Linked DNA regions of Homo sapiens: regions 2 and 3 are each linked to region 1. Evidence: fine-mapped expression QTL. A gene starts in region 1. Each other region holds a variant in brackets. All regions are shown on one strand. Distances are from middle to middle. Region 1 holds the start of NDUFAF8 (NADH:ubiquinone oxidoreductase complex assembly factor 8). Region 2 overlaps SLC38A10 (solute carrier family 38 member 10). Region 3 overlaps LINC00482 (long intergenic non-protein coding RNA 482).

What was found. PIP is the estimated chance that this variant, and not a neighbour inherited with it, causes the effect.
Region 2: its variant is the best candidate, but not a certain one, in a credible set for the expression of NDUFAF8 in whole blood (INTERVAL, PIP 0.70).
Region 3: its variant is the best candidate, but not a certain one, in a credible set for the expression of NDUFAF8 in prefrontal cortex (GTEx, PIP 0.56).

What each region holds. Positions count from the first base shown.
Region 1 is chr17:81,237,510-81,242,545 of GRCh38, reverse strand. It overlaps NDUFAF8 (NADH:ubiquinone oxidoreductase complex assembly factor 8), which reads right to left and starts at 3,228. Exons shown (of 3, transcript NM_001086521.2): 1 at 3,099-3,228; 2 at 2,868-2,978; 3 at 1,236-1,559. The coding sequence starts at 3,182. The coding sequence ends at 1,530. It overlaps TEPSIN (TEPSIN adaptor related protein complex 4 accessory protein), which reads left to right and starts at 3,491. Exons shown (of 13, transcript NM_001363764.2): 1 at 3,491-3,560. The coding sequence starts at 3,513. RefSeq lists silencers at 1-117, 3,002-3,151, 3,394-3,609, 3,712-3,801 and enhancers at 2,662-2,741, 3,122-3,341, 3,585-4,167.
Region 2 is chr17:81,272,943-81,279,401 of GRCh38, reverse strand. It overlaps SLC38A10 (solute carrier family 38 member 10), which reads left to right. Exons shown (of 16, transcript NM_001037984.3): 7 at 2,269-2,371; 8 at 3,251-3,433. Among named protein-coding and RNA genes, the nearest start is that of SLC38A10, 19 kb to the left of the region's middle. The variant G/A (reference allele first, on the strand shown) is at 3,085.
Region 3 is chr17:81,301,810-81,308,268 of GRCh38, reverse strand. It overlaps LINC00482 (long intergenic non-protein coding RNA 482), which reads left to right. Exons shown (of 4, transcript NR_038080.1): 2 at 425-639; 3 at 2,452-2,603; 4 at 2,907-5,445. Among named protein-coding and RNA genes, the nearest start is that of LINC00482, 4.2 kb to the left of the region's middle. RefSeq lists a cis regulatory region at 5,632-5,830. The variant C/GC (reference allele first, on the strand shown) is at 3,050.

The DNA of each region.
Region 1 (5,036 bases):
TTGGGGTGGCAGAAAAGAGGGTGTACCCCGGAGGCCTGAGAGCTGAGTTTGGAGGTGTGGGCCACGCTGGGCCACAGGAAGTGGCAGGTCTGTCACCACCTCACACACAGGGTGAAGGACAGCGAGGGGGAGTGCTGGCAAGACAGGTCTGTGGGTGGGATGGGAGGCTGGATTTGGAGGGAGAAGATGCAGGAAGCTCTGCCAATGAGCTGCCAGAGAACGGAGAGGGCGTGACAGGGCTAAGAAAAGGACGTCTGCACACTGAGGCTCGCTCATGGATGAGTGCTGGGCACAAGAAGGAGGAAGGCAGGGGTGGGGGGCAGCCGGCCCTGCACGCTGGGGAGGCGGGTCGGGTGGTTTGTGCCAGCGCAGGGCATCTGAGTCTGGCATGCACAGGGATGGACTGCGGTGGCTTGACCCCAGGAGTCTGGTCTGGATTTCCGTGGTTCCCAAGATGTGACACTATCCTGGCCCTTGGGACAAAATCCAGCACTCTGGCCTGGCTCCTGCAGACCCACCACCCAGATCAGACCCTTAGGGGAAACCAGGTTAATTCTGGGGCAGCATCTGGAGGAGGAAACATGGAGGAACAGACCTCAGCCCACGGGGTCAGCCGCTAGCACGGGCCTGGGGGCAGGCGCAGGCTGCAGCCCCAGGAAAGTGCAGCCTCTGCACCCCGGAGCAGGGGGGCTCTCAAAGCAGTCCCCGCCACGCCCTGCAGGTGGCGCTCAGGCCCCATGGACTCCGGGGTCTCACCATCAACAAGTGCCCGGGCAGAGTCAGGATGTGGCCCTTCTCACCTTAGTTTTAGGTCAAGTGATGTGATAGGGAGGGGGAACGAGAGGGCAGGCGCCATCGGTGAAGTACCTGGGCTGCCGAGGGGGCGACCAACCCCACACAGGAGGGGCACTGGCTGCTGGTGCTCTACGCAGGCCCCTCTCGGAGACTCAGGCCCTTTTGTGAAGAGCCTCCGCCCTGCCCCGTGTCCAGGAAAGCCACCTGCGAGGACCCTGCCCCATGGAGTGTCCCCTCGTGGTGCTGACGTCCTTGTCTTTGGTGTGTGCTGTATACCCACAGCAAGGTCTGCAGGCTTCACCAGATTCACATTAAATACCTTAGTGAGAGTGTTTTAAAACGGGGACCTTGAGGCAGGGTGTCCCCAAGTCCCAGCCCTGCCAGCTTTGGGGGAAAGGCTCTGGGCCCCATTCCATCTCAGAGAGGCCAAGACCCACATGTTGCAGTCTGCACACAGTAAGCCCCAGGCTGCAGGATTTGACCGAGTCTTTATCGTGGCTTCCGTTACATCTTATTCTAACTCAGGTTTACGGACACAATGCTGGAAAACCAATTCCTGCTCTACCCACGCCTCAACTTGTTAAGAAAAAACAGGATCTAACACCGAGGAATGTCACATCTTCGCCATTCCCACTTCCTTTCTGCCCTAGGCATTCGATATGTGCCACCAGGGGCCATCAGGACTAGGGCTCTGCACCCATGGCAGCAGACAGGTGTGAAGCTCAGAGTCCCTCCTAACAGCCTCCCTCCAGCGTCTTCTTGGCCTGCAAGATAAAGTGTTTTGTCTGAATGGCTTGCTTCCAAGTTAGATACGCCTCAAAAGCAAGCTACCACACCACACGTTGTGTTCTACCAAATACCTTACAGAGAACTTGGGTGCTGGCATATGGTGGGGGCTCGACTGGTTGGAGCCTGGGGCCCCATGGGCAGGTTCTCTGGGTCACTTGTCCACGGGACAAGGGCCTCATGACACTATCACAGAACTCACTGCTGCCCCCTCCTCTGAGCCCCCACGAGATGCCACATTTGGTCTCAAGCTCTCATAGAGGGAAAGCAGGAGCCCCCCCCCTTTTTTTTTTTTTGAGATGCAGTCTCACTTTGTTGCCTAGGCTGGAGTACAGCAGCGTGATCTCGGCTCACTGCAACCTCCACCTCCCAGGTTCAAGTGATCTTCCCACCTCAGCCTCCCAAGTAACTGGGACTACACCACCATGCCTGGCTAATTTTTTTTTTCTTTTTTTTTGTAGAGACGGGGTCTCCATATGTTGCCCAGGCTGGTCTCAAACTTCTAGGCCTAAGCAATCCACCCACCTCAGCCTCCCAAAGCGGTAGGATTACAGGCACGCGCCACCACACCCAGCAAAAAGTGCAACTTCTGATGAGTTGTCCACCCCTGGATCCAAGGCTGCTGGGGCCGGGTAGGGATGAAGGCCGTGGAACTCTTGTTCAAATACCCTTTCTCTGGTCCAAATCTCCGGATTAACAGCTCCCAGTAAACAGAGTCAGCACTGGCATCAAGGCCTACCCAGATACACTGAGGTGGTACCCGGTGCGGCTGACACTTAGGGAACCAGCCTCAGAATGACTTAAAGCCCCACGGGCAAGAAGCCCTATCGTGCCAGTTGTGAGGGTGGCTGGGGGTTCCCCGCAGGACACGTGCTGAAGGAATCCACCACTGCAGGTGCACAGGGGCTGCAAGTGCCAGGGAGGTGAAGACCCGGAAGGTGCTGGGCACTTTCCGGGAGTCCTGTGTTGGGTCAATCCTGGCATGACACCCCCCGGCGGCAGTGCTAACACGAAAGCTTACGCGTTTTACAAGGCGCTTTTTTGCACACATCTCCCATCCTTTCTGAGGTTGGTGCCAGTCCCGCTTTACAAACATGCAGGGACAAGCCCAGGACGGCCGAGGTTTCGCGGGCTCGTCGATGGCTCGGTGATTTTGTCAGCCGGCGTCTAAAGCACGCGGCAGGCGCTCAAACCTTGAACCAACGGGAAAGCAAAGGAAAGCCGGGGCCCGCTGGCTCTTGGAGGGGAAGGGCTGGGAAGGGGGGAAGGGGCCCGCGCCCACCTACCGCAGCGGCGAAGCAGCTCCGCAGGGCCTCGAACTCCCGCGCGCAGAAGTCCTTACTCAGGCGGCCGCCCGGGGCCGTGGAGGCCTGCACGCACCTGCCGTACGCCGCGGCCTGCGGAAAGGACGGGCGTGGGTCGTGGGGTCCCCTGACCCCGTCACCGTCCTCCCTCCCAGCCACCTCCCCGCGCGGCTCCTCCTGCCCCGCAGCACTGGCCCGCCCGCGGCTCCTCACCTCGGCCCCGCAGGCGGCCAGCCGCTCGGGGAAGGCGCGGAGGCGGCTTCGCACGCGGCCCCACACCGCTCCGTTAGCCGACATGAGCGGCTATTCCCAGCCCCCTGGAGGCCGCCATCTTAGGTCCGTCCTCTTCCGGTGTCAAACAGCTTGATAGGTCGGCGCTTCCGCCCATAACCTTTCCTGAACTTCTTAATTGGCCAGGCTTTGCCTGGCCTCGAGCCCCCGCAATTGGCTCTTGTCCTAGTCTGTCTGTGCTCTGGGACTTCGGATTGGCCTAGGCTCCAATTGTTTACGAAGCCAACCTCAGGGCCCGCCCTACCGTGAGGGATTGGCCGGCGGACCCAGACCCGCGCAGTGATTGGAGGGCCCGGGCCTGGCGGAAGCGGGGCAGACCGGGAGGGGACCTGGATCATGGCTGCCGCGCCGCCGCTACGGGACCGCCTGAGCTTTCTACACCGGGTGAGTGAGGGCGGTCCGCCCGGGCCCCGGTCCCACGGCTCCTCTCGAGCGCCGCATTCCCCGGACTCGCCCCGGGCCGGAGCCATTGACCTTGCGTCTCCGCGCCGGGTAGCTGCTCCTGGCCCCTTCGCCCGCGCCGACGCCCCTGAGCTGCCCGCCCGCCGCGCCGTCCCGGGGCCTTCCAAGCCGGGCCTTCCAAGCCGGACCCGCCGAGCGCAAGGGCGATGGGCACAGCCAGACCCTGGGGGAACGAACAGGCCTCGGCCAGCATTCAGTGGCCTCCGACGGGAGGGAAGGAGCGGCGGACCCGGTGGACGTGGAGCCGCTGTGTCCGTGCTGCTGGCGCCCAGGTGGGCTGGCAGCCCGCCGTCCTCCCTGACGGTGGCGTTTCAGAGGACTCCGGTCCTGGAGAGGCACCCCTGGGTTGCAGAGAACACAGACGTCTCGAAGGGACAGAGAAGGACGCACCATTGTAAGCCCCTCTTAGTAAACCCTCTGAGAAGTAGAGGCCGGGGCGAGTTCCCAGGTGTCGTCCTGAGCAAACTGCCCTCTTTTGTCAGCCCTGAGCTTTCCTGGGCTGGACCTCAGAGGGGGCTGGGTGGTCCCAGGGCGCGACCTTGGGCTGCCAGAAGCCACGCTAGGGTTGGTCAAGGCTCTCAGTGCAAGGTTTCGACATAGTCGTTCTGTGCTGCGTTCTGCAGTTGTCAGCTGTCACCTGCAAACCTCAGCAGCTCCCCTTAGGGCGTGGTGGGCAAACAGTGTCAGTGATGCGTGTCCACAGCCTCGGGAAACACTTCAGGTCCACGTTTTCGTATGTTGTCACTAGATCTCGGCCCTTCCGACCGAAAGGCTTCGGCACCTCACGCGGTGGGTCCCATGCTTGTCCTGTTAAATACTCTTGAACTCTATTCTGTCCTGATACTGAATAATGCAAGAATGGGTGGTTCCAGTTTTCATCCCTATAAACCGTACATCTTTGTGCCAGTAAGTAAGCATGAAACAAATAAGTACGTCTGCGCTAAGCGAACGTAAAACACACGACATCAGTCGGTTCTCGGGGAGCGATGGAGCTAGTCACGCTGAGCGGCTGTCACTCTGCCATTCCGGCCTCTGGGGAGGTGGAACGATTCATAGTCCCCTGTGTGGAAAAGGGGCTTGCCTGGGCCTTGTTTGGCTTTGCTAGTCAGTAGGTAGGTACAGGAGAGGTACCTTCAAATAGCCTTACATGCTGGTAAGTGCAGGGAGGCTGGGGGCTGTGTCCCTTCTTAACCCAAGTGGCGCAGCTCCTCCGTGGAGAACCACCATTGATTTGCCTCTTCTCCGAGGCTGTTCATCCCTGACTGTTGAGAGAGGACCCTGCTGCAGCCTCCCTGTGGCCAGTAGCACAGTTCTCATCCCTTCCCAGTCCTCTCTCCGGCCATGTCAACAGTGAGAGGTGGGTCGTTTCCATCCCCTTTGGGGGGCTGCGGATTCACC
Region 2 (6,459 bases), 36 kb before region 1:
CGTCACTGCACCAGAGTGCCTGTCCCTGTTGGGTGGCGGGCCGCGCCCCCTGCCTGTGTGATTGGCCTGGATGCCAGCTGGGGCCAGGTCTCCCTTGTGCCTTCACTATCTGGCCGTTTTTGGTAAATGCATACCTGGTTATGCAGAATGGTTGTCCTAGGCCCAGAGAAGCAGCCGGGCAGCACTGAGCCCAGGAGGCCCTGGAGGTCAGGGTCTATCTGGAGACCAGGGTCCCCATCCTCACAGTAGGGCAGAGGGGCACACACCCAAGAGCTGCATGTGGATGGCTCCATTTGACTCTGGTAGGCCCTGAGGCTCAGAGGCTGCCTTGCAAGGTGGGCGGGCCAGGGATGCTCCGTCTGGGGCCATGGGCCAGCGCTCAGCATGTCCCCCATCTGTGGAGCTCCTTTGCAGGTGGCCAGGAGGTTTTGTGGCTCCTACCTTGTTTCTTTCCAGGGATGATCCCGGGGGTCCCTGGGGTAGGTGGTCAGGATTGGAGAGGAGCCTGGGGCTTGGCCTTCCACCCTGGCCACCCCGTGTGCGTGGGACACCCCTTCCCACAGTGTCCGTGGCTTCCTTGGGGGTCACTCCCCACAGGGTGTATTGGGGGCTGGGGGTAAGCACGTGTCATGGGGCACCAACGCTGGTCCCCTCAAGCCAAGACTCCCTGGTGTGGACTCAGCTGTGGCGAGAGGACAGTTTAGCACTGGGAAGTTCATGCCGCAACATGGCCTTCTTCTGTAGCTGTGGGTCTAGGGCCGTGGAGACCTCTTGGGTGTTTCTCCTGATTCTCTGCCAGCCTCCTGGGGCTGTGTGCACAGGCGTTGGCCACTTAGCTCCCTTCTAGCCTGGGCCGAGGGGAAGGCTCATGTCCTGCGGGGTCCCCTGACTGCTGCTGATGGCACTCCATGCTGAGGGCGGCCTGATGGGATGGTGTGCTAGGACCTGGGCAACGGGACACCAGCAGCTGCTGGCAGGACCTTCTCACTTGTCAGTCTGCTGGGTTTTCTTTTTTTTGGAGATGGGGTCCTGCTGTGTCACCCAAGCTGGAGTGCAGTGATGCGATCACAGCTCACTGTAGCCTCGACCTCCCGGGCTCCAGTGATCCTCCTGCCTCGGCCTCCCAAAGTGCTGGTATTTGGGTGTCAGCCGCTGTGCCTGGCCTGGTTTGCTTTTTAATAAAGTCAGGATGTCCTGTGTTTTCTTTCACTTTCTTCAAGGCGGTTTGGGATTTGGCTCCGCTGGCCGCTGTGCTGGTGATGTCCTGTGTTTTCTTTCACTTTCTTCAAGGCGGTTTGGGATTTGGCTCCGCTGGCCGCTGTGCTGGTCCATTTACTGGCTGCTGGCTTTCTGCATCCCGCCCTCCCCCGGCCCACCTAGCTTCCTTTGTGCCCTTGAGCCCCTGCCCTGGGACAGCCATGGCCATGGCCACCTGGACACCCTAGGAGCACCCCCCTGGACTCCCACTCCAGAGTCCTCGTTCAGCCCCATGGCAGAGCAGCTCTCACCTGTGCTCTGGCGTGTGCCTGGCCCAACTCCCTTCTCCCCGGCTGCACACAGATGCTCCATGGCCCCAGCCTCTCCCTTGTCGTCTCGCCCACCCCTTTCCAGAGGCCCAGGTCCCTGTGCAGGTCCCTCGGATGCGTCTGCTGCCTGTGCAGGGCTGTCATGTCCTTGCCTGGCTGGTGGCTTGGGTCCCTCCCACCCCTAGCAGCACCACACTCCTGGCACCAGGCTGTGGGACCGAAGCCAGTTTTCTCATCACACAAGTGAGAGGCTGCAGTGGGGAATCGCGCCCCAGGCCGCCTCCTTGTCTGTGCCGACTCTGATCATGCCTGTGCGGAGGCGCCGAGATGGAGGCGCCGAGATGGGCCGGCCGCCCAGGCCAGGGTGTGTTTGTTTAACTTTCCCTCCTCTTGACAGCGATTCTCTGAGCAGCCTCCTCCGGCTGCTTGCCCTGTAAACTGGCTGCTTTGACTCTCAGCACCCGCTCCCTGGCGTGGAGCAGCAGCCTGTCGTTCTGTAGCCTTGGGGAATGTTCGCATGGTGCACGCTCTGGGGGGTGTCCTGAGTGGGGGCTGCTGCAACGCTCCTGTCCTCAGCAACACCAAGTCCTGGCCTCAGCGCTGGGACTTCCAGTGTGCAGAGAATGTTGCATGAAGGAAGGTCAGAGACTCTCACTGGGCTGCAGAGAGGTCCTAGAAGTGGAGCCGCTGGGGAGGGCGTGCCTCTCTCAGGTCCGCTGTGAAATGGCCTGTTTCTATACAGCCAGGTGCTGCCCACCTACGACAGCCTGGATGAGCCGTCAGTGAAAACCATGAGCTCCATATTTGCTTCCTCCCTTAATGTGGTCACCACCTTCTACGTCATGGTAAGAGCCTTGCCACGCCCTCTCCGCCCCTGTGTCATGCCAGCATGATGTGCCGTGGTGCCCCGTGGGACTGCCACAGGCATGGCCCTGGCCCTGTGTGCTGCTGGGTTTTTCTCTCTGTTCCCATCCCAGTGTCTGGAGGCTGCGCGGGGACCTGGGGCAGCTCCATCAGCTTCCATCATTCCAGGACCAGCCCTGTGAGCCTGGGTCCACCCTGGGCCAGGAAGCTCTCCTGACCTGAGGAGCTGGGCACCAGGGCTGCTCCCAGAACCCTTTATCCGAGCCACTCTTACTCTCTCTCCAAGACCTCTGTTAATTCTCTGTAGAAATGGGCATGTTCCGGCCGGGCGCCGTTGCTCACACCTGTAATCCCAGCACTTTGGGAGACCGAGGTGGGCAGATCATGAGGTCAGGAGTTCAAGACCAGCCTGGCCAACATGGTGAAACCCTGTCTCTACTAAAAATACAAAAATTAGCTGGGCATGGTGGCACGTGCATGTAAACCCGGCTACTCGGGAGGCTGAGGCAGGAGAATTGCTTGAACCAGGACCGGGGAGGCAGAGGTACGCCGAGGCCAAGATCGCACCACTGCACTCCAGCCTGGTCTACAGAGGGAGACCCCGTCTCAAAAAAAAAAAAAAAGAAAGAAAAAGAAAGAAATGGGCATGTTCTTACAGAAACTAGAGATTTTTAGAAGGAGGAGGCGAAATGGT[G/A]CCTTGCCCCTGGAAGGCCATCTCTTGCAGAAGCTTCATTATGAAGTGGATTGAAGGCCATTCTGGGGGGCAGGGCACAGGTCCCCCCCATGCCCTGCCCACTGTGACAGGTGCCACTCGGCTAGGATGTCTGTCTGCCACGTTGCCATTTCTTATTCTCCAACAGGTGGGGTTTTTCGGCTACGTCAGCTTCACCGAGGCCACGGCCGGCAACGTGCTCATGCACTTTCCCTCCAACCTGGTGACGGAGATGCTCCGTGTGGGCTTCATGATGTCAGTGGCTGTGGGCTTCCCCATGATGATCCTGCCATGCAGGCAGGCCCTGAGCACGCTGCTGTGTGAGCAGCAGGTAAGACCCTCGGGGCACTCTCCGGATCGTAATAGCACAGGTCAGGCTCGCTTCCCATAAGCCCCCAGCTGTCCCGAACCAGAGATATAGCAGGAAAGTGGGGATTTGCGTCAGAGGAGTCCCGGGAGGGCGGAAGTTGGGGGAGCCTAGAGGAACCAGATTGATGGGCAGGAGCTGATAATGGCCAGAGTCTGGAGATGGGCACATGGCGTTCACTGCACAGTTCTCTTTTTTTTTGAGACGGAGTTTCGCTCTGTCGCCCAGGCTGGAGTGCAGTGGCGCGATCTCGACTCACTGCAAGCTCCGCCTCCCGGGTTCACGCCATTCTCCTGCCTCAGCCTCCCGTGTAGCTGGGACTACAGGCGCGCGCCACCATGCCCGGCTAATTTTTGTATTTTTAGTAGAGATGGGGTTTCACCGTGTTAGCCAGGATGGTCTCGATCTCCTGACCTCGTGATCCGCCCGTCTCGGCCTCCCAAAGTGCTGGGATTACAGGCGTGAGCCACCGCGCCCGGCCCACTGCACAGTTCTCTTGACTTTTGTGTAACTTTGAAAAATTTTAACAATATAGCAGATTTTTGAACCATAAGAGAGGCTGAGTTTGATGTAGGCCATATTGGTGGTGCCTGTGGTCCCAGCTCCTCAGGAGGCTGAGGCGAGGTTGTGTGAGTCCAGGAGGTTGAGGCTGAGTGTGAATGCATCACTACACTCCAGCTGGGGCAACAGAGCAAGACCCTGTCTTTAAACACATTTTAAAAATAGGCTGGATATGGTGGCTCACACCTGTAATCCCAGCACTTTGGGAGGGCGAGGTGGGAGGATTGCTTAAGCCCAGGAGTTTGAAACTAGCCTGGGCAACATCACTTGACTCCATCTTTACAAAAAATTAACAAAAATTAGCCACGCATGGCAGCGCATGCCTGTAGTCCTAGTGACTCGGGAGGCTGAGGCAGGAGGATCACTTGAACCAAGAGTTCAAGGCTGCAGTGGGCCATGACCGCTCCACCATACTCCAGCCTGGGCTACAAAGTGAGACCCTGTGTCTAAAAGAGAAAGAAAAATAAAAAGTGAGGCTGGGTTTTTTCACTGTAACACATGTAGGCCAGGCAGCTACTTAGTTCTTTCTAAGAAACTTTCAGCTGTAGGAGTTGAAACCAGAGGGCTGTCCTGGTTCTCTCCTTGTGGCAGAGTGAACCATGAAAGGCCCGCTGCGCTGTCTTTCGCCCCGAGCGTGGGGCTGTCCTGGTTCTCTCCTTGCGGCAGAGTGAACCATGAAAGGCCCGCTGTGCTGTCTTGCGCTCCGAGCATGGGGGTGCAGACGCCACTCTGCAGTGCTGGAGGAGCCCTGCCCCGTCCAGGTTCCCCTCCTGCCTCCCCTTGGGAGCTCTGCCCGGTGGCCCATCCATCTTCTGTCCCGCAGCCTGAGATCTGTGAGCCTGGTATGTCCCTTCAGCTGGAACTCCTGGTGGCTAGAGGCACACGTTCCTCTTGAACTGTTTCAGCCAAGGCGGGTTGAGTGGTCTCAGAGAATCCAGGGGAGAGTCCAGCAGCCACATTGGGGGCGGTGGGTCTCCCTGGGCCTTGGGAACGATAGCATTGGCTCACTGTCCATGTGGCCAGGTGTGCGGTCACCACAGCCTCCTGCAGACTTCCACCAGCCACGTGCCTCTGGCTTCGCAGCAGAGGCCAAGCACCAAAGACTGGGTGCCTCCCCCACGTGCTGGTGCTCCTCTCTTCTGCGGAGTTCAGGCACCTGGGCACGGGTGAGGCAGGATCGAGGAGGCAAGGCCAGAGCCCGTCATATGGCCGTGGGGTCCCTCCGCGCATCTGGCCAGGCCAACTTTCAGTGTTTGATGTTTTGTACCTGAGCAGCATCTGTATTTCTGTACGTGACCCATTTTTATCTTGTTAAAAAATTGACAATGGCGTTAAATGTATTGTGACTCAAGTAGGAAAGCTTACGCAACCCCCTTCATCCCAAGGTGGACCTGGCTGTTTCCTCCGTCAGCGCCCGTGGCTGCTCCTTTCCCGGAGGTGCGGCTGCGGCCATGCCACCTGCTTTCTTGTCTTCGGCCCATGTGCCGTGAGCGTTTCTCCACGGTCCCTACAAGCCTGCAGGGGCTCTGCTTCCTTGCTTCTCCACCTGTTGCGGGGGCCTGGGTGCACTGCTCCTTCACCCTTGACCTCTCGTGGCTAACCATCTCACGACAGTCTTCGTGCTAAAGTCCCCTCTCCCCTTCTCTGGGTCTATGTCATAGGTAAAGTTCTAGGACCGGGACTCTTGTGTGATGGACCTAACCCCCCACCTCCATGGCCTGTATACAAATTACCGCCCTGAGGCCGATAGGAACTTCTGGCTCCGTCTTCCACAGTCCATCCTATGTAAAAGTCCATTCTGAAAATGGCATGCTTCAAAACTAGTTCTAGAAAGTTCTGCAGTTGTTTCCTAGCCCAGGGAGAGTCATCACGGCCAGTCCGTCCTGTGTGTTAACTTATTTGGTCCTTACCACGGCTGGATGAGGAGATGCTTCTGTTGACAGATGAGGAAACTGAGGCACCGAGAAGTCACTTGCCTAGGGACACACAGGTGGGGCTGGTGAGTGGCAGAGCAAGGATTTGAGCCAGGTGGTCTGGCTCCTGTGTCCTGTACTAGAGACCACAGCTGGGGGTCCTGGGGCAGGTGGCGTCTGAGGCCATCCGTCCTTGGCTCTGCCGCCTCCTCCGGAATGAATGGCCCTGGCATCCCGGTGCAGATCAGTAGAGTCCTGGCTGCACACTGGGGCCAAAACAGGCACTTGAAATTAGGGCCTCATCGTGCCCTTCTCTCTTCTTCTTCCTGGACTTTGAAATTGCTCACTGCTTGTTGCACATCTGCTGGAGATAACACGGCCATGTGTGCGTGTGTTTGGGGGGGTTCTGCCTGCACCCTGAAACCTGTGGGCCAGGAGAGTCCTGGGGCATTTGTCAGGAGCGGCGCTGTGCAGCCTGTGTTTTGCTCTCCATACTTCCTGGCACTTAAAAAACTC
Region 3 (6,459 bases), 65 kb before region 1:
CAGCAAATGCTACAGAGCTTTTGTAGGCCCACCAGCAGGAGTGGGGTTGCCAGGCAGTGAGCTAGGGGGTGCTGGGAGGGCCCGAGGGGAGGCAGGGCGCATCCTGCAGGGTGCCTGTGAGGACCTGGGCTGAGGGTGGGTTTGAGCAGAGGCTGACATGGTCTCACCCTCTGGCTGCTGGGTGGGAACAGACCATGGGGAGGCCAGGACGGAAGTGAGGAGAACATGACGATCCCGGAGAGAGATAACCCGGATCGTGGTGGAGACACAGGAAGTGGGGAGAAGTGGTCCAAGCTGTGGATATCTGAACATGGACTCAACAGAATTTCCCGATAGATTGGATGAGGGGTGTGACTGAAAGGGAGAAGTCAAGGATGGTTCCATAGCAACCGCAGGAGCTCCAGCCATTGCATCTGCATTCCAGGCAGCAGGAAGGAGAAAGGAGGGAAGGTAAAAGACTACTGAAAAGCTTTCAGCTGGGGCTGGGCATGGAGGCTCACACCTGTAATCCCAACACTTTGGGAAGCCGAGGCTGGTGGATCACTTGAGCCCAGGAGTCTGAGACCAGCCTGGCCAACATGGCAAAACCCTGTCGCTACAAAAAATACAAGAATTAGCCATGTGCACCTGTGGTCCCAGGTATGATCTCACCACTGTACCTCAGCCTGGGTGACAGAGTGAGACCCTGATTCAGAGAAGGGGGAGGGGAAGAGGAAGGGGAAGGGGAAGGGGGACGGAAGGGGGAAGGGAAGGGGAAGGAGAAAGGGAAAGTGAAGGGGGAGGGGAAGGAGAAAGGGAAGGGGAAGGGGAAGGGGGAGGGGGAGGGGAAGAGGAGTGGAAGGGGAAGGGGGAGAAGGGGAAGGGGAAGGGGGAAGAGAAAGGGAAGGAGGAGGGGGAGGGGGAGGGTCTTTTGGCAAGCCATGAAGTCGGCCCAGCCCTTCTGCTTATATTGCTCAGGTTGTAGTCACAGGACCATGCCCGGTGCTCGTGAGGATGGGGAGGTGATTGCTAGCTGGGAACTGCGCACTCAACAATGACAGGGAGATGCCTCTGGGTGGGGAAGGCAGTGCATGGACGCTGGTCAGCCGGCCACTCCAGGCAGTGGGAAGGTGCTCAGAGGCCCGAGGAGTCAACTCTGGTGGGCGCTGGCTGTGCAGCCGGTGCTGGTGGCCTGAACACGGCAGAGGGCCAGGCCGGGCCTCACTCAAAGGAAGCAGGGAGACAGGAGCGGGGCTGTGGGCTTCTCTCGAGAGCTGCCAGGCAGCCAGGCAGGCTGGGAATGACATTTGCCATGCTGTGCCCCCGGCTCTGGCACTGGGCGGCTCCTGAGGCCCAGGGAGGAGCGTGACCTGCCCACGGGTCCACCATCATCGAATGCGAGTCAGAGTCAGACCAATGCTGTGGCTCCAGGACAATGCCGTGTCCCCTCCTGGGGCTCAAAAAAGCATGACAGGGATTTGGGGGACAGGGGTGTTCACTTCTGCCCTCCAACAGGCTGAGGGGGAGGGTCTGGTTTCTCTGCTCACCTGTGCTGAGACGGTGCTGGGGAGAGGCAGGCGGGAGCCCCAGCCCCCTCCAAGTGTTTGCCAGCCCAGGCTCTGTCCTGTCCAGGCATGTCCTGTCCACCTGCCTCCCTCTAGGGACCGTGGGGGCAGGCCTGGAGCACTGAGCTCAGGGCCCCGAGCCGTCTAGAGGGACAGCTTCCTCACACCATGCACCTGGGCTGAGCTCAAGTCGCTGCAGCCCCTGACCCCCAACTCAGATATCCCTTTGCAGCCCACCTACTACCCAAGAAGCTGCTGTGTAGGGACAGAGCCCACCAGGGCACTGGGGACACGTGGCACAGGCCAGAGAGCTCCTGAGGCCTGGGAGGCTGCCATGTTGGGTCCCAGATGGACACACCCCAGTACGCCCAGTCTCAGGGCCTGAGCCACCCACTGGTTCTAGAATTCTCTCAGGAGAAGAGAGCCCCTCACGGCCCCCTTCATCACAGGCTGCGCGGCCTCAGCCTGGCCAGCCCCGAGACCCTTCTAGCTTGCGGATCCCCCTCCTGCTCCCCCGACCCTGACTCTCCCAGAGTGGACTGGCCAGGTCTGGGTCTGGTCTGCGGGCAGGAGCCCTGCCCAGGCGGCCCCCAGGGCCGGCCCTCCTCTCCCCGACTCCATGCACGTCTATAAACGCCCTGCACAACCCAGGGCCTTTGCCCGTGCATCCTCTGCCCGGGCGCCCTCTACACCATCTGCTGAACCCGGGTGTGCTCTCTGGGCCCCTCTGCAGGTGCCTCCTCTGCTCCTTTGGGAAAGCCCCACCTGTCTTGAGGTCCCCCACACCTGTGCTTCCCAGCACCTCGGAGACCCCAGAACCACTGAACAAAGAACACTGGGGTCCTGGGCTGCCACATGGAGGACCCCAGGGTGGCAGGCTCACAACAGCACAGGTGTCCTCCTACAGCTCCCAGGGCCGGGAGCCTGAAACCAAGGTGTCCACAGGGCCCTGCTGCCCCCAGAGGCTCTGGGCAGAGCCCTTCCGCCTTTCCAGCTCCCCCTGGTTCCCGTGCTCCTCGGCCTGTGGCCCCATCACTCTGGCCTCTGCCTTCATCTCATGTGAGTTTCTCCTCCTCTTCCATCCCTTATAAGGATGAGGGTCGTTGGGCTTAGGGCCCCCTGGGATGATCCGGGATGACCTCATCTCCAGATAACCTCTCCATGACAGCTGCAAAGACCCTTGCTCCAATTCTGAGATTCTGAGATTCTGGTTGGACATCACATATTGGAGGCCACCATTCCACCCACTACACAAAGAAACCCTCCCCTCCAGAACCCCTTTCCCTGTCCGACCAGCCCTTTGCAGCTTTCACACCCCCTGACAAATTTGGTTCTGTTCCCTTATTCTACCCCCTGCCCTAGGCCGAGATCCCTGAAGCGGGCCCAGCTCCGTTCACTGCTCCCCCGGCCTCCTGCTGTTTCCCACACGCAGCCATGGTACAGGGCAGCTCATCCCACCACCTCCCCAACCGCAGCCTCCAGGGATGTACACCCTGCCTCAGGGG[C/GC]TGTGCCTGGGCCCTGGCTGGTGGAGGGCACAGCCGTCAGGGAAGGCCCTCAGCTGCAGGATGCCGTGCCTCAGAGACCAACCAGGCCCTCGAAGGCACTGTGGCCGGCCCAGATGTCAGCAGCTCCAGCAATTAGGCTGGGACAGATGGTGCCTGGTGACACAAGGGGACTGTGGGGGCCACAGGGGACCCTGCTCACCTGGACCTACCGTGGAGGCCAGGGAGGGAGATGGACTCGAAGGGCGGAAGGGCCCAGAGAAGGCACATTTGCAGAGCAGCGGCCGCATTTCCAGAGCTCGGGAGCCCAACAGGAATCCCGTCTGGCCATGGGACCACCGCCCTTGGGGCTGGGGGATGCCGCAGGGGACGGCAGAGGGCAGACAGGCCAGGAAAAGGGGAGGGCAGAGGGCAGACAGGCCAGGAAGAGCGCCTGCAAGTGCCCAAGGAAGGGACCAAACCCAGGCCCCTGGACCAGAGCGGCCGCCTGGTGGGGCAGGCTGGAAGGGGCCAAGGCCAGCGCCAAGGGGGAGCAGGTGAGGGACCCTGGTGGGCATCTGTGGGAACAAGGCCACGTTTCTCCCTGCGCACGCTTTAATCAAGGACATTCCTGTGGTTCTCCAAAAGTGTCGCACACTACATGGGTGTCGTGAGCTGGGCTCCGTGAGAGTGTGCGGGTGGCTGGGGGCAGCAAGGGAGCAGCAAGGCCTCAAACCCGGGCGGCGGCCTGGCCTGCGCGCCAGGATGTGCGGTGTGAGTTTCCCGAGCTGCAGGAACAAGGTCCACAGACTGGGGAGCTTCACACAACAGAAACTGCCTCGCAGTTCCCGAGGCCAGAGCCCATCGGGGTGGCTCCCTGAGGCCGTGAGCCCGGACTGTCCTGGGCCGCCCCCTCTTCCACAGGCTGAGATCATCCTTGGCGTCTGTTGGCCTGCGGCCGCCTCGCCCAACCTCTGCCCTCATGTCCACACGGGTCCTCCCTGTGTGCATGTTGGTGTCTGGATCTGCCCTTTCTACTGTGGGGCAACTGTCGTCGAGGATAGGGCCCACCACACAACACGGCCTCATCGTAACTAAGTATAGTCAGCAGTGATCCTATTTCCCAATAAGGTCCCATTCTGAGGTCCTGGACTTCAACATGTGAATTTTGGGGGCCACAACTCTACCCTGGCATGCAGAGAGAGAAGGGGGGCGTGGAGTCCCCCTGGGGGGAAGTCCCTTGGGAAGTCACAGGCCCCCTTGGTGGGGCAATTGGGACGTGGGTGTGAGGGTCCTGGGTACAGGGAGCCTGCCTACCAAGGCTCTGCCGACAGCTATTTCTAAATTCCTCGTGGAAAATACCCTGTGGCCCTCCTCATCTGGAGCGAGCGACGGGCTGGAGGGTGTCTGAGCCAGGCTGGTGCCGGGGAGCAGATGTGGGTGGCCCAACCCAGCCCCTTGTTCTTGTTCCCCACCTCCCAGGAAAGGGGGAGGGTGGGCGGAGCCGGCCCTCCTGGGCTCTCTCCTTGGGTCCCGGAGCCACCTGGGGAGGGGAGGCTCAACCCCCTACCTTGGCCAGCTGGCTGCAGGTCTCTCAGGGCTGGCACAGAACAGCTGGGCTTTGCCAGGTGTCCCCCATCCTGATGCACGGCCCGGTGGTGCGGTCTCCAGGCCTCCCAGGATTCTCAGCTGCGCCGTCTCCCCAGTCCCCAAACCCCAGTGGTGGCCGCCAGGGGACTGGACCGTCAGTCTGTGGAGCTGGGGCTGCAGCTGGTGGTGTTTCCAACAAGGGTCTTTTGGCTGCCTGGCTCCAGGGAGAGGCCTCTGGAGGCAAGGGGTAACCTACCGGGAAAGCCTCAAAGGCACCCCCATCCCCGCCCCGCACAGACTCCACCGGCCCCCCATGGTTCCTCCAGGCCCTCTTCAGTCATGACAGGCAGTGCCTGGGTGCCCGGCCTGCTCAGCACACCCTGGGCCTCAGCCCCACCCAAGCCTTGGCCTAGCATGGGAGCCACCACGGGAACACACACACGGGCTGGAGGGTGTCTGAGCCAGGCTGGTGCCGGGGAGCAGATGCGTCAGATGGAGGAGAAAAGCCCTGGGGCAGCGGCTTCTGGAGCTCTGGCCAAGGATGGGCTCTGAGCACACCCCTGCCCGGCCCAGAGCACCAGGCCGGGGCAGGGTCAGGAACAGCTTGAAGCCCCCTGCAAAGTCTGTCCCTCCTCCTGGAGCCTCAGCTGCCCCTCCAACACAGCCCTCTGTGGGAGCCTAGATGGCCCCCGTGTGGCCATGAGACATGGGCGGGCGCTGGTGGATTCCTCTGTGTCAGGTGACATGGTGGCACCCCGGCCGCAGGCTGTGCCCCGGCTGTGGCGTTAAGAAGGGCTATGGATCTAAATAAAATCCAGTCTCTTTGCTGGACCTGTTGTCAGTTTTATGGCTCTGGGGTTATAGAAACACGGGGAAGAGACCCCCAGGAGGCAGGGTGGGCTGGACGAGAGGCCACCAGGTAGGGCCCTCCCCTCCCTCCATGGGATACCACCCTGGGTGATTCTAAAGGTGGGGAGTCCGCTGAGAAAGGGAGATGGGAACCAGAGTTCCTAGACAATTCGGCACCCGAGCCCAGGTGAACTTTTAACTCCTGCCTGCTGGGGTGGTGAAAGCCCAGGCCCCCCTGAGGCTCCCCCAGCTCCCCAAGCCCACTGGGGCCCCAATTTGGATTCCGAGGGGCCGTCCTGGCCTTTGCTCACGCCCCCAGCTTAGAAGTTGGAGACCCAGGTGGGAGAGCGTAGGACTGCCCAGTAAGCAGTGCTCAGGAGGGGGGCCAGTCCTCACTGGGGCCCCTACACAGGACCTCCCAGAAACTGCACGGCAGACACCAGGGTTAAACAGGCTTCCAGCCGGCGAGGTGGCTCATGCCTGTAATCCCAGCACTTTGGGAGGCCAAGGTGGGCAGATCACTTGAGGTGAGGAGTTCAAGACCAGCCCGGCCAACATGGTGAACCCCGTCTCTACTAAAAAACCCCACAAAATTAGCCGGGTGTGGTGGCTGGTGCCTGTGATCCCAGCTACTCGGGAGGCTGAGGCAGGAGAATTGCTTGAACCCGGAAGGCAGAGGTTGCAGTGAGCTGAGATCGTGCCATTGCACTCCAGCCTGGGACACACAGATAGAGACTCTATCTCAAAACAAACAAACAAACAAACAAACAAAAAACCACCCAAAAACCAAAACAAAAAAACCAGGCTTCGGCTGTCGAGGGCACCTGGGCCATGCGGCTCCGTGGGCCAAGCTCTGCCCACCTCGGCGTTCCTGAGCCCGCCCACCTCCCCCAGGCATTCTTTCCTGAAGCAGGCCAGGGCTTGTAGGGGATTCCACCGCAGCTGGGGCCCCGCATTTCTTTGGTGGGAGTTGTGGGGCAGAGGGTGCTTGGGTG